Regions from separate parts of the Homo sapiens genome. Here region 2 is linked to region 1. Evidence: fine-mapped expression QTL. A gene starts in region 1. The other region holds a variant in brackets. All regions are shown on one strand. Distances are between the middles of the regions.

What was found.
Region 2: its variant is fine-mapped to the expression of NAA30 in whole blood (GTEx, PIP 0.97).

The regions. Positions count from the first base shown.
Region 1 is chr14:57,387,913-57,393,289 of GRCh38, forward strand. It overlaps NAA30 (N-alpha-acetyltransferase 30, NatC catalytic subunit), which reads left to right and starts at 2,674. Exons shown (of 5, transcript NM_001011713.3): 1 at 2,674-2,793; 2 at 3,045-3,816. The coding sequence starts at 3,046. RefSeq lists an enhancer at 2,658-3,653 and silencers at 2,782-2,921, 3,052-3,201.
Region 2 is chr14:57,181,361-57,186,737 of GRCh38, forward strand. No RefSeq gene overlaps it. Among named protein-coding and RNA genes, the nearest start is that of EXOC5, 85 kb to the right of the region's middle. The variant A/G (reference allele first, on the strand shown) is at 3,273.

The DNA of each region.
Region 1 (5,377 bases):
AATCAAATAGAAAAGATTTCATAAGTTATAAAGGCAATTTTTTTTAGAGATGTCATCTGATTTAGAAGGCCAACATTGTAATTTTAATACTGGGATATAAAGAAAAATCACTGGGGCTGAGACATTAGAATTACCCCACTAGTTATTGAGGAGGTCAGAATTTACTTTGTCATTATAAGCATTCTAGGTTACTGAATGAGAGACTGGTGTACTTCAGTCAAAAAGCTTAACAATTTCCCTTTTATGTGTTTGATATGTGAATACAAAGTGACTAACATTTACTCCCTGGCCTCAAGAAGGTCCTTACAACTCTTGACTTTCTGAAAACCACTTTGAGACAACATCTGGTCAGCTCCTCAGTGTGACAGAGCTCAATGCCAAGTTGCAACACAGAAAGAACAGGAAGGCCTGCTGCCATTCATTCACTACAGTGAAGGTACATGCTTTTTAGGAAGGGCTTACATTTAAAAGTAAATTACTGAGAGGTATTTTTCTAAGTAAAATTCACCCTTAAACATCTCTTATGGAATTATCTGGTGCCTCTTGGGCCAGTTTTTCCACCATGATTTGAACAGATCATTGTTTCATTGGCTGACTACCCAGGTTACACTTAGAAACTTTGAAAAACATGTATCTTTAAACAATGTATGCACATTTGGAAACATGGTTTTGTTTTGTGCTTTTTAAAAGACAGAAAAGGGATCACGCTGTACTTATACATCTCATTTATATCCCCCACACATCAAGGTGTTTAGGAGGTTTTCAATGTATCTGTAGCAAGTTATACATTCTGAAAATGGCCACAGCAATATTTCTGGTCCCATATGCTCTTTGAGAACCTTGCCTCTCTCCACCAAGAGTAGAGTCTATTTCCCCTCCTGTCAAAACTGGATATAATTTTGTGTCTGCCTAGATACAATGCAGCAGAACTGACACTACATAACTTGTTTTTTGTTTCTTTTTGATGAGAGGGAGTCTCCCTGTGTTGCCCAGGCTGGAGTGCAGTGGCGCAATCTCGGCTTACTGCAACCTCCGCCTCCCGGGTTCAAGTGATTCTCCTCAGCCTCCTGAGTAGCTGGGACTACAGGCATGAGCTACCACGCCCGGCTAATTTTTGTATTTTTCGGCAGAGATGAGGTTTCACTGTGTTGGCCAGGCTGGTCTCGAACTCCTGGCCTCAAGAGATCCTCCCGCCTGGGCCTCCCAAAATGCCAGGATTACAGGCGTGAGGCACCGCACCTGGCTAGAGACTACATGACTTCTAAGGCTAGGTTATAATGGGTAATATGCTTCTGATTGACTTTCTCGCACGATACTTGCCGTGGAACCCAGCCACCAGGCTGTGACAAAGCCCAAACCAATCAATGCTAAAAGACCACCGGGAGAGGTCTACATGGACTAGAACTGAGGCCTCCAGCCTTTATCCTGCATCAACCATCAGCGGTGAAAGTGAAGTTTTCAAATAATTCTACTCCTCAGCCTTAGAGTCTTCCAACTGAAGCTCTACGCATAATGGAGTAGAGAAAAGCCATCCCAGTTGTGCTCTGTCTGGATTTCAGAGGCACAGAATCTGCGAGCATAATAAATACTTTATACATAGAGTTTAGATTACGGCAAAAAGTTGCAAACGTGTTCCGTCATAGAATTATATATTGAAAACGTCCATCTGCGGCACACCAGACCAGCTCTATAAATCAGGTTTTTAACAAAACCGAATTTGTTCAGTGAGCGGGTGAGTTACACTACCTGTCTCAGCTCAGACCTGCCGGGAGTCAATTGTGGACTAGAGCAGAAGGCGCCCAGCCACAAGCTCAAGTTCTATCCCCTTTGCACTCGATAGGCAGATCCCCTGGGAGGATCAGGCCACCTGTTTACCAGTGCTTCCTAACCTATTTGTGTCACAAGTTTAGGAGTGTGCTTCTTAGCCCTGGTCACTCTCTTTCACCACCTCTCTCTAACCCTTCCCCAGGTGTGCTAGCAATTGCCCAACACCTGTCAGTCACTTTTGCCTCCAATTTTACTGGGTGCGAGGAGCAGAGTAAGGAGGGAGAGGAAGAGGGCTGACTCCCTTGCCTCAAAGTGGCAAGGGCCAGCTGAACTTAATTCACACTGCAAACCACCACGTTTCGACAGCCATCCCCATATTTTCACAGCTCAAATCTTCCTTTCTTTTTCGGTCGGCTTCTCTGATTTGCTCCATTTTTAATCGCTCCTCCCCCATCCTCCTTGCCCCTGGTCAGGGCAAACATTAAACGCTGTGCAGCTTTAAAAGGGCATTTTTAGGTGACTTGTAAACGGCTTGTTCCACAGGCCCCGAATTGGCGAGATTCGCTACAGCTCGGAGTGCGCGGTAGACTTTAAGCAGGGAGCGCCTGCCCGGTCCATCCCTCCCCGGCCCCGCGTGGCAAGCACCGCAGGTTGAGGCGCCCCCAAACCGAGGAAGAGGGTTTGGGAGCCTGTGACTCCAAAGCCCTCTGCAACTTCCCGGCCCCACAGCCCCACCCACTAGCACGCGGCCTTCCCCGCAGCCCGCAGGAGACACCTTTGTCCCCGCCCCTCCACAGGTCACCTCCCTCCACGCCCCTCTCTCTTGGCCCGGGCAGCCGGCAGGCAGGGAAGTGTCGTAAAGCCAGGCCCAGGAAACTTTACCCGGCCTAACAGCTGAGGCGCTTTACGGCGACGGCGGCTGAGTGAGAACCTTGGCGGCTGTGGAGGCTGCCGCGGCTGCGAAGGAGGCGGCGGCGGTGGCGGAGGAAGAGGAGTGGCGGCAGCGGCGGCGGGGACCCGTGCGGGGTGAGCCGTGAGGAGGGGCCGCGAGTGACAGGGCTGGCGGGTGGGCCCGGGCGGACGGGGACGGTGGCCGGCTGAGCAGCTGGGCGGCGCTGAAGAGCGGGGGGGTGGCGGGGAATTGGGGGGCAGCTCCGTGAGGGACGGTTTCTGCCTTTGTTCCCCCCACCTCGGCCGCCCCCCATCCGTCGCCCCCTGTTCTCCGCGCTCCTCGGCCGGGTTTCATGGCCTCCCCTCTCGGTCTGTGTCGCTTCTAGGATGGCGGAGGTACCGCCTGGGCCTAGCAGCCTCCTCCCACCACCAGCACCTCCGGCCCCGGCGGCGGTCGAGCCCCGCTGTCCCTTCCCGGCGGGGGCCGCCCTCGCCTGCTGCAGCGAGGACGAGGAGGACGACGAAGAGCACGAAGGCGGCGGCAGCAGGAGCCCGGCGGGCGGAGAGTCGGCGACGGTGGCGGCCAAGGGGCATCCGTGCCTCCGCTGCCCTCAGCCGCCGCAGGAGCAGCAGCAGCTCAACGGATTGATTAGCCCCGAACTGCGGCACCTCCGGGCGGCCGCCTCCCTCAAGAGCAAGGTCCTGAGCGTAGCAGAGGTGGCCGCGACCACAGCCACCCCTGACGGAGGCCCCAGAGCGACTGCAACAAAAGGAGCCGGGGTACACTCGGGCGAGAGGCCCCCTCACTCCCTCTCTAGTAATGCAAGAACTGCGGTCCCCAGCCCGGTGGAGGCAGCGGCGGCGAGCGATCCCGCGGCGGCCCGCAATGGACTGGCCGAGGGCACCGAGCAGGAGGAGGAGGAGGAAGACGAGCAGGTGCGGCTGCTGTCTTCGTCCCTGACCGCCGACTGCAGCTTAAGAAGCCCTTCGGGCAGGGAGGTTGAGCCTGGGGAGGATCGGACGATACGATATGTCCGATATGAATCCGAGCTACAAATGCCCGATATCATGAGACTGATCACCAAAGATCTGTCCGAACCCTACTCCATTTATACCTATAGATATTTTATCCACAACTGGCCACAGCTGTGCTTCTTGGTAAGTGGATAGAATAAAAAGAGGGTGAACCCAGCAGTGATCGAGACTGTGCGGGGCAGGGAGTGAGGGCCCAGAATGTGGCAGTGGATATCTCCTGCTGCGTATCATAGTACGTTATATGATGTCAAGTGCTGTACACATTCCTAGTTATTTAATGAAATTGTTTTGAAGGTAAGACTTCATGATTCGGGTTAACGTGATACTAGTGTAACTGCAGCAAGCCTGTATGGTGGCGTGTTTCACTGGGGTGGGGGTCTTGTGTCTTGTTTACATTAGATTATAATCGTGTTTAACCGTCTTTAATTACCCGCCCGCATCCTCAAACACTTTACAGTCATTTAATTTGAACATGGTTCTGTTCAGATACAGGCCTTATTAGTCTCTCGATTACAACCATAATCAGGGAAGAGTGTATGCATAAACATGTTGTGGTGAACATGGATGTCAGCAAACTTGGTGTGGTCATATTGGAGAATTAAATCTTACAAGCATTTTCGGTAATTATGGAGATGTTTCTCTTTACTTCAACTGGACAATTAACAGTTGTAGCCAGCCTGCTTTCTGGTACTCCATTCCAGAAAGCGCTACTAACACTTCTGGTGGCTGAAAGACTCCTGAAACTTGAACAAAATACCCTTTTGTGGAATGTAGAAAACTTGTGTGAAATTGTTACCGATCTGATTTTTTTTTTTTTAATTTAAGAAACTGGTTGTAGATGTGGCCAAACACTAGTAACACTGGCTTGTGTAGAGTATAATTGACAATAATATTACACGTAAGTGAAAGACTTTTGGACGGTTTTTAAAAATTAACATAGTATTGGCAGTACCAGTAATTTCTTCACAATAATATTGACCCATTTCAGTCTGTATGAACCCTTTAACTTAAACGTTGACTGCAGGTGTATGCTTTGTATCATGTGCTCACAAGCATATTGTTTCTGTTGAATTTTACTACAGAAAGATGACATCCTTTTAAGGAATATTTTTTAATATGTGAAGGGAAAAGCCACCATTACTTAATGTTTTAGCATTGGCTTAGTTTCACTTGGTAATTCCCTGCAAGATATTTTGACAATACTTATCTTTTTGATTCTCTAGCTTGGTGATAATTTGAAAATGTAACCTGGGTATTGTAGATAATGGTAGTTCTATTTTCTGTCTTAACTTGCTTAAACTTCAATTCAGTACATTTGTTAAAACTGTGGGTACTACTTTATATTCTTGAAAACTGCTCTTTCAGTATTCTAAGCATTGTATCAGAATAGTTCTAAGACATGTCTGTGTCAATGAATATGAGAAAATGATTTATAGCACTATTATAAATGTCATATCAAATGCCACTGTAATTGCTAAAAATTGTAGATTTAGTTGTAAGTTAACCCACAGAAGTAGATGATTGAGTCACATTTCAAGTTGAAATAGATGTTTTTCTGTCAATTCCAGGAAATAGTTGTGTATATGATATTTAGTCAACTTTGAGTCCTGATAGTTACCTAAGCCTCTCTCAACTTGTTTGCTATTTTAGACTCTGGTCAACAATATTAGTAAACTTTAGATTT
Region 2 (5,377 bases), 210 kb before region 1:
TAATTTTTGTATTTTTGGTAGAGACAGAGTTTCACCATGTTGGCCAGACTGGTCTCAAACTCCTGACCTCATGTGATCCGCCTGCCTCAGTCTCTCAAAGTGCTGGGATTACAGGCCTGAGCCACCATGCCTGGCCTAAAAAACAATTTATGACTCTAATCAAACCAGTCCTTTGTCACAGCCAACTATCTAGGTAAACAGGACCCACAGCTTCTTACTTCTTCTCTGGCATCCCAATCATCTTCCCACTCCTCAATGGATTCATTCGTGAACTACAGAATTCCAGACAATGCCTCATTTTACCCTCCTAATACTGTCTTCCTCTCCCTCTAATACCAACCAGGCTGAAAGTTTTGCCCCGGGATTCACTGGATTAAAAGAATCGAGGTAGACTCTAAGAAAAGACATAGTTTGCAAATTCAAGTAGTTTACAACTTTTTATCAGTATAGTAGACAGCAACCAATATATTTCAAATAAAGCTTAATTCCCCAAGGGGGTGACTATAATGAAGGTACCTGAGAGAACCCCCTGAAGGTCATCATCCCTACTTCTAAAGAACCAAAAGAAAACACAGGTGGCCACAGTTTCTAGATCAGTGCTTCTCAAACTTTAATAAGCATCAGCATCACCTGGACGGTTTGCTGAACACAGATAGCTGAGCCTTACCCTCATTGTTTGTAATTCAAGAGATCTGGGGTGGGGCCAGTGATTTATTTGCATTTCTAACACATTCTCTTGATGTTGGTGCTGATGTTGATGCTGATACTGCTTGGCCTGGGCATCATACTTTGAGAATCACTGCTGTTTCAGATCAACACTAGGAAAGCCTTGGAATGGGAAAATATAAACTCCTGTTTCCTCCTGAATTGTATTTACATGTCAGATTCCATCACGTAATATTGATGAACAACCGCAAATCCTAACAATAAAGCTCTTGCTTGAAGTTTGCTTTTGATTGATGCCTTGTAGACTCTCATATCCCCAGGGAGTTATATATCAAGAATGGGGTCCTTTAAGGGCTGAGAGATGAGTAGACTACAGCTAAGATGTTGATTCTAAGAGGAAACTCTGGTCCGACATCCTCAAAATCTACACAGCTCACTGTCTGATTATCACAAGCTAGAGTGACTTAATCTAGAACCCTACCTAAAGTGAGATCAACAAAACCCAGTAGCCCATACAAATCTGATGCCAGATTCTGGGGCAGAGCATCCAGTGGATGATGTTCCCAGAGGCTGGTGCCAATGACCCATGAGCTGTGACCTCAGGCAGGCTAGAGGATGATCTCAGTAATTCTGTTCTGAAATGCTGCATAGACCAGGAGCTGATGCCATAAAAATATCCCCAAATAGTCTAGCCTTTTTCATGTGCTTCTGAAGAACTTTAACAGTTCTTCCCCATGGGATGGGCCAATGAAGGGGGAGAAAAATCCCTTGCACAGCATGCTGTGGTTGACAGAGTAATTTTCATATGTGTTCTCATTCAATTCTTACAACTCTGTGAGTGGTAGTATTAGTATCATTCCCATTTTACAGATGAGGAAATGGAAATCCAATAAAGTTTGCCCAAGGTCAAAGAACCGAGATTCAAACCCAGGCCGCACAAGCTCGATGAATGATGCCACACTGCCTCTCAGAGGCCGAGGAACAGATGTACAACAGCAGCCCTGAGAAATGGTTCTGAACAAAAGTCAGGAGGGCAACCAATAAAACTCATTAAAATTCTTCATGCCAAGCAAAGTAACAAGACAACAGGGCAAGGGGCAAGCTGTTTGGCCAGCAAACGATAGAGAAGCAAACAAAAACAAGATATAACTGGAATGTTTTTTTTTTAAAAAAAAAAAAACAGACAGATGTTTACATAGTCATTTCACAATAACAGATTGAGACTTATTTCTCTGAGAGCACACTTAAAGGTTCTTACATAAACTATCCTGAGAGATCCTTAAGCAGAACACTCACCACTCTCCCAGAGGCATATTTTAATTCTCCATCTTGCTAATTTTTTTATTTTAGAGTTATCCAGGAAGAACAAGTGCTATAGGAACTAAAACTGCTTTAGTTGAAGGTGGTCAGCTTCCAGTGTTGGAAACTCAAAGAATAATTAAAAGAATTCTTATTGAGACAGATTTAAACATGTATTCATGGCTTGGAGCAGGGGGTCAGTCCTGTAATCCCAGCACTTTGGGAGGCTGAGGCAGGTGGACCACCTGAGGTCAGGAGTTTGAGACCAGCCTGGCCAACCTGGTGAAACCCCATCTCTACCAAAAATACAAAGATTAGCTGAGCATGGTGGTGGGTGCCTGTAATCCCAGCTATTCAGGAGGCTGAGGCAGGAGAATCACTTGAACCCAGGAGGCAGATGTTGCAGTGAGCCGAGATTGCACCATTGCACTCCAGCCTGGGCGACAGAATGAGACTCCCTCTCAAAAAAGAAAAAAAAATGTATTTATGAAGATGCACTTTTCTCATAAGCTGATTCTCCTCCTTGCTTCTTATCGCTATTATGTCCTGAGTCAGAGCCAGCCCTAGGCAAAACTGACAAATAAAAGTTTATTTTCAGCACTACCTCTCTTCCTAACCTCCACTTTCCCCATCTCCTATAAAAATCCCAGGTACTTCTTCCTACCTCCTTTTGGCTAAAGACTCAGTTTTCTTTCCTTCCCAATAAAAATCTGCCCTCCAGGAAGAATACGATGTTTTCCACACTCTAGACCAATGGATCCTAACTTTGGCTGCATATTAAAAATCACCTTAAAACAACAACAACAAAACAATGTCCAGGCTCCACCCTAAACTAGTTAAATCAGAATCTCTGACAGTGAAGCTCTAGCATCAGTATTTAAAAACAAACAAACAAAAACAACTCCTCTCCTCCAAGTGATTCTAACATGTAGCCAGGGTTGGAAATCACTATACATACATTCATGAGAAGGCTTATTATATTACTCTTTCCCAAAATATTTGTATTTTATATCATAACAAGCCTTAGTAGTGGGACATTTAGGCAGGCTACATGATCGACGAAGAAAAGAGGAAGAGTTAGAGAGAGAAGAGAAGACTCCTTTGTTGAAATTACTCCCTGCAGAGGTGGATGTCATCTTAATTAGTGAGCTTCATGGGTTCAGCAATGAGAAGGTCATTCAGACACCTGCATTTGGTTTAGAATCACTCTGTCTCATGGTTTCCCTTTCAGACACACCATCCTTTGACTGGTGTTCATGTTGGTGGCAAACAGATCCTTCAGTTATTTCTTTTTTCTCTCCATGATG[A/G]CAGGTTTTTTTCCTTCTTAGGTCTGACCAAATCCCTGTCTATAACTTTCAGCATTCAGCTAAGGGAGCAAAGTGCCCTGATTTATTTAGCAGAGTAAATGCTTTGGAGATGCTTCCCAGGTCATTCTTTACAAAAGATGACCTGGGATGGCTGTCCTTTTCTTGACAAGCCTCATAGGATGGCAATTTGTTAGGATCACTGAGAAAGCAAGGTCTGGTTCTCAGTTTTGCAGGCTCTGAATCAGAGTTTTATTACTGCACCAGAGGGTGATCAGGCCCTCGTGAGCTGGCGCATACTAATCTACCACATAAATCATAACCCTGCCGTACTCAGTTTTACTGAGATCTTTGACTGTCAAATGGACTACTTCTCTTGGCCAGCCTAACACCTTAGCTTACAAAGTCAGGAGCTCTCTTTGTGAGAATAAGGATGGAGCAAAGGTACATATCAAAAAAGTGCCTCCACAAAATCTTCCAGAGGTCCCATCTAGAACTTCTAGGAAACCAGAGAATCCTACATTTTAGCTGTACTCACTGCACTCCCTTCTTCTTGCCTTTGAAACAGAGGTCTGCTTACTGAGAGTTAGGCTTCGAGAGTGGCAGAAAGAGCAATCCAAGAGGATACCTTCGTTGAAAGGAAATTGCCAAACAGAGTCAGTTATTCCATGTCTGATGCAGTCTCTTCAAACAGACCAGTGGTTCTTAAACTCTTCTGCACATTAGAATCACCTGGGAGCTTTCAAGAGTCCTGATACCTGGGCCACACCCCAAATCAATTGGATCAGAATCACCAGGGATGGGAGCCCGTGGCATCAATATCTTAGGGATGCTAAAAATACCACAGAAATGTGTTGCCCATGAACTCAGATTATGGTTTTTGCGGATTCGTTTTTAAACTACCACAGGTGATTCCAATAAAAAGCCAAATTTGTGAAACCACTGAATAGGTCTGTGCAAATGATTTGCATAGTCACAGTCAGATTCCATTCTCCCCCAGACAAGGCTGGAAATAAATCTTTACTGTCTTTTTCTATCTGCCATCCTAATTAGGGGGTTTCAAGGTAAGGAAGGTTTGTATTTATATTTATATGCCAGACACAGAAGAGGCCTGTATGTACTTTGTCTCCTTAGTTCTGGACACAGTCTTCTCATCCCGATTCATAGGACTGAGCTACTTTAAAGTACATGTGTCAACCACAACCCTCCAGTTCTCCTTAATCAGAAACTCTGAGATTGGATGCTGGGTATCTGAAGATTTTTTAAATTCCCCAAATGAGCTGATTCAAAACTAGGGCTAAGAATCTCTGAGCCAAGTAGATCACTGGCATTTGAGACATTTTGTGGCACTTGTCATAATATCATTCTTTATTCAAGGCCAGATTATAGGGTGGTTCAATCAGACAAATACCTGTGGCACTTATATATTAGAAATGCTCAAACAAACAAACAAACCAAAACAAAACAAAAACAAAAACCATGGAAATATATTGTCAGTGAACTCAGTTCTTTGTCTATGCATCCTAACACAAAGGACAAAATATAACATGGTTCCATTTCTACTAAAGTAGATCACCTTTCAGAAGAGATTAAAATGGAGAAGGGAAAAGAAAAGAAAACAGGCCGGGCGCGGTGGCTCACGCCTGTAATCCCAGCACTTTGGGAGGCCGAGGCGGGTGGATCACGAGGTCAGGAGACTGAGACCATCCTGGCTAACACGGTGAAACCCCGTCTCTACTAAAAATATCAAAAAATTAGCCGGGCGTGGTGGCGGGCGCCTGTAGTCCCAGCTACTCGGGAGGCTGAGGCAGGAGAATGGTGTGAACCCGGGAGGCGGAGCTTGCAGTGAGACGAGATCGCACCACTGCGCTCTAGCCTGGGCGACAGAGCAAGACTGCGTCTCAAAAAATAAAAATAAATAAATAAAAACAAAACAAAACAAAGCAAGACAAAACATCCTTGCCAGTATTGATCACTCCTCACTAAACAAATGTTGAACCATGATTTTCAACACACTTGGTGCTTGCATATCTCAATCCAGCCCTAATACCATGTCTTATTTTCAATGATGGTATTTGGATTGGTCATTCTGAGGGAGACCGTATGAT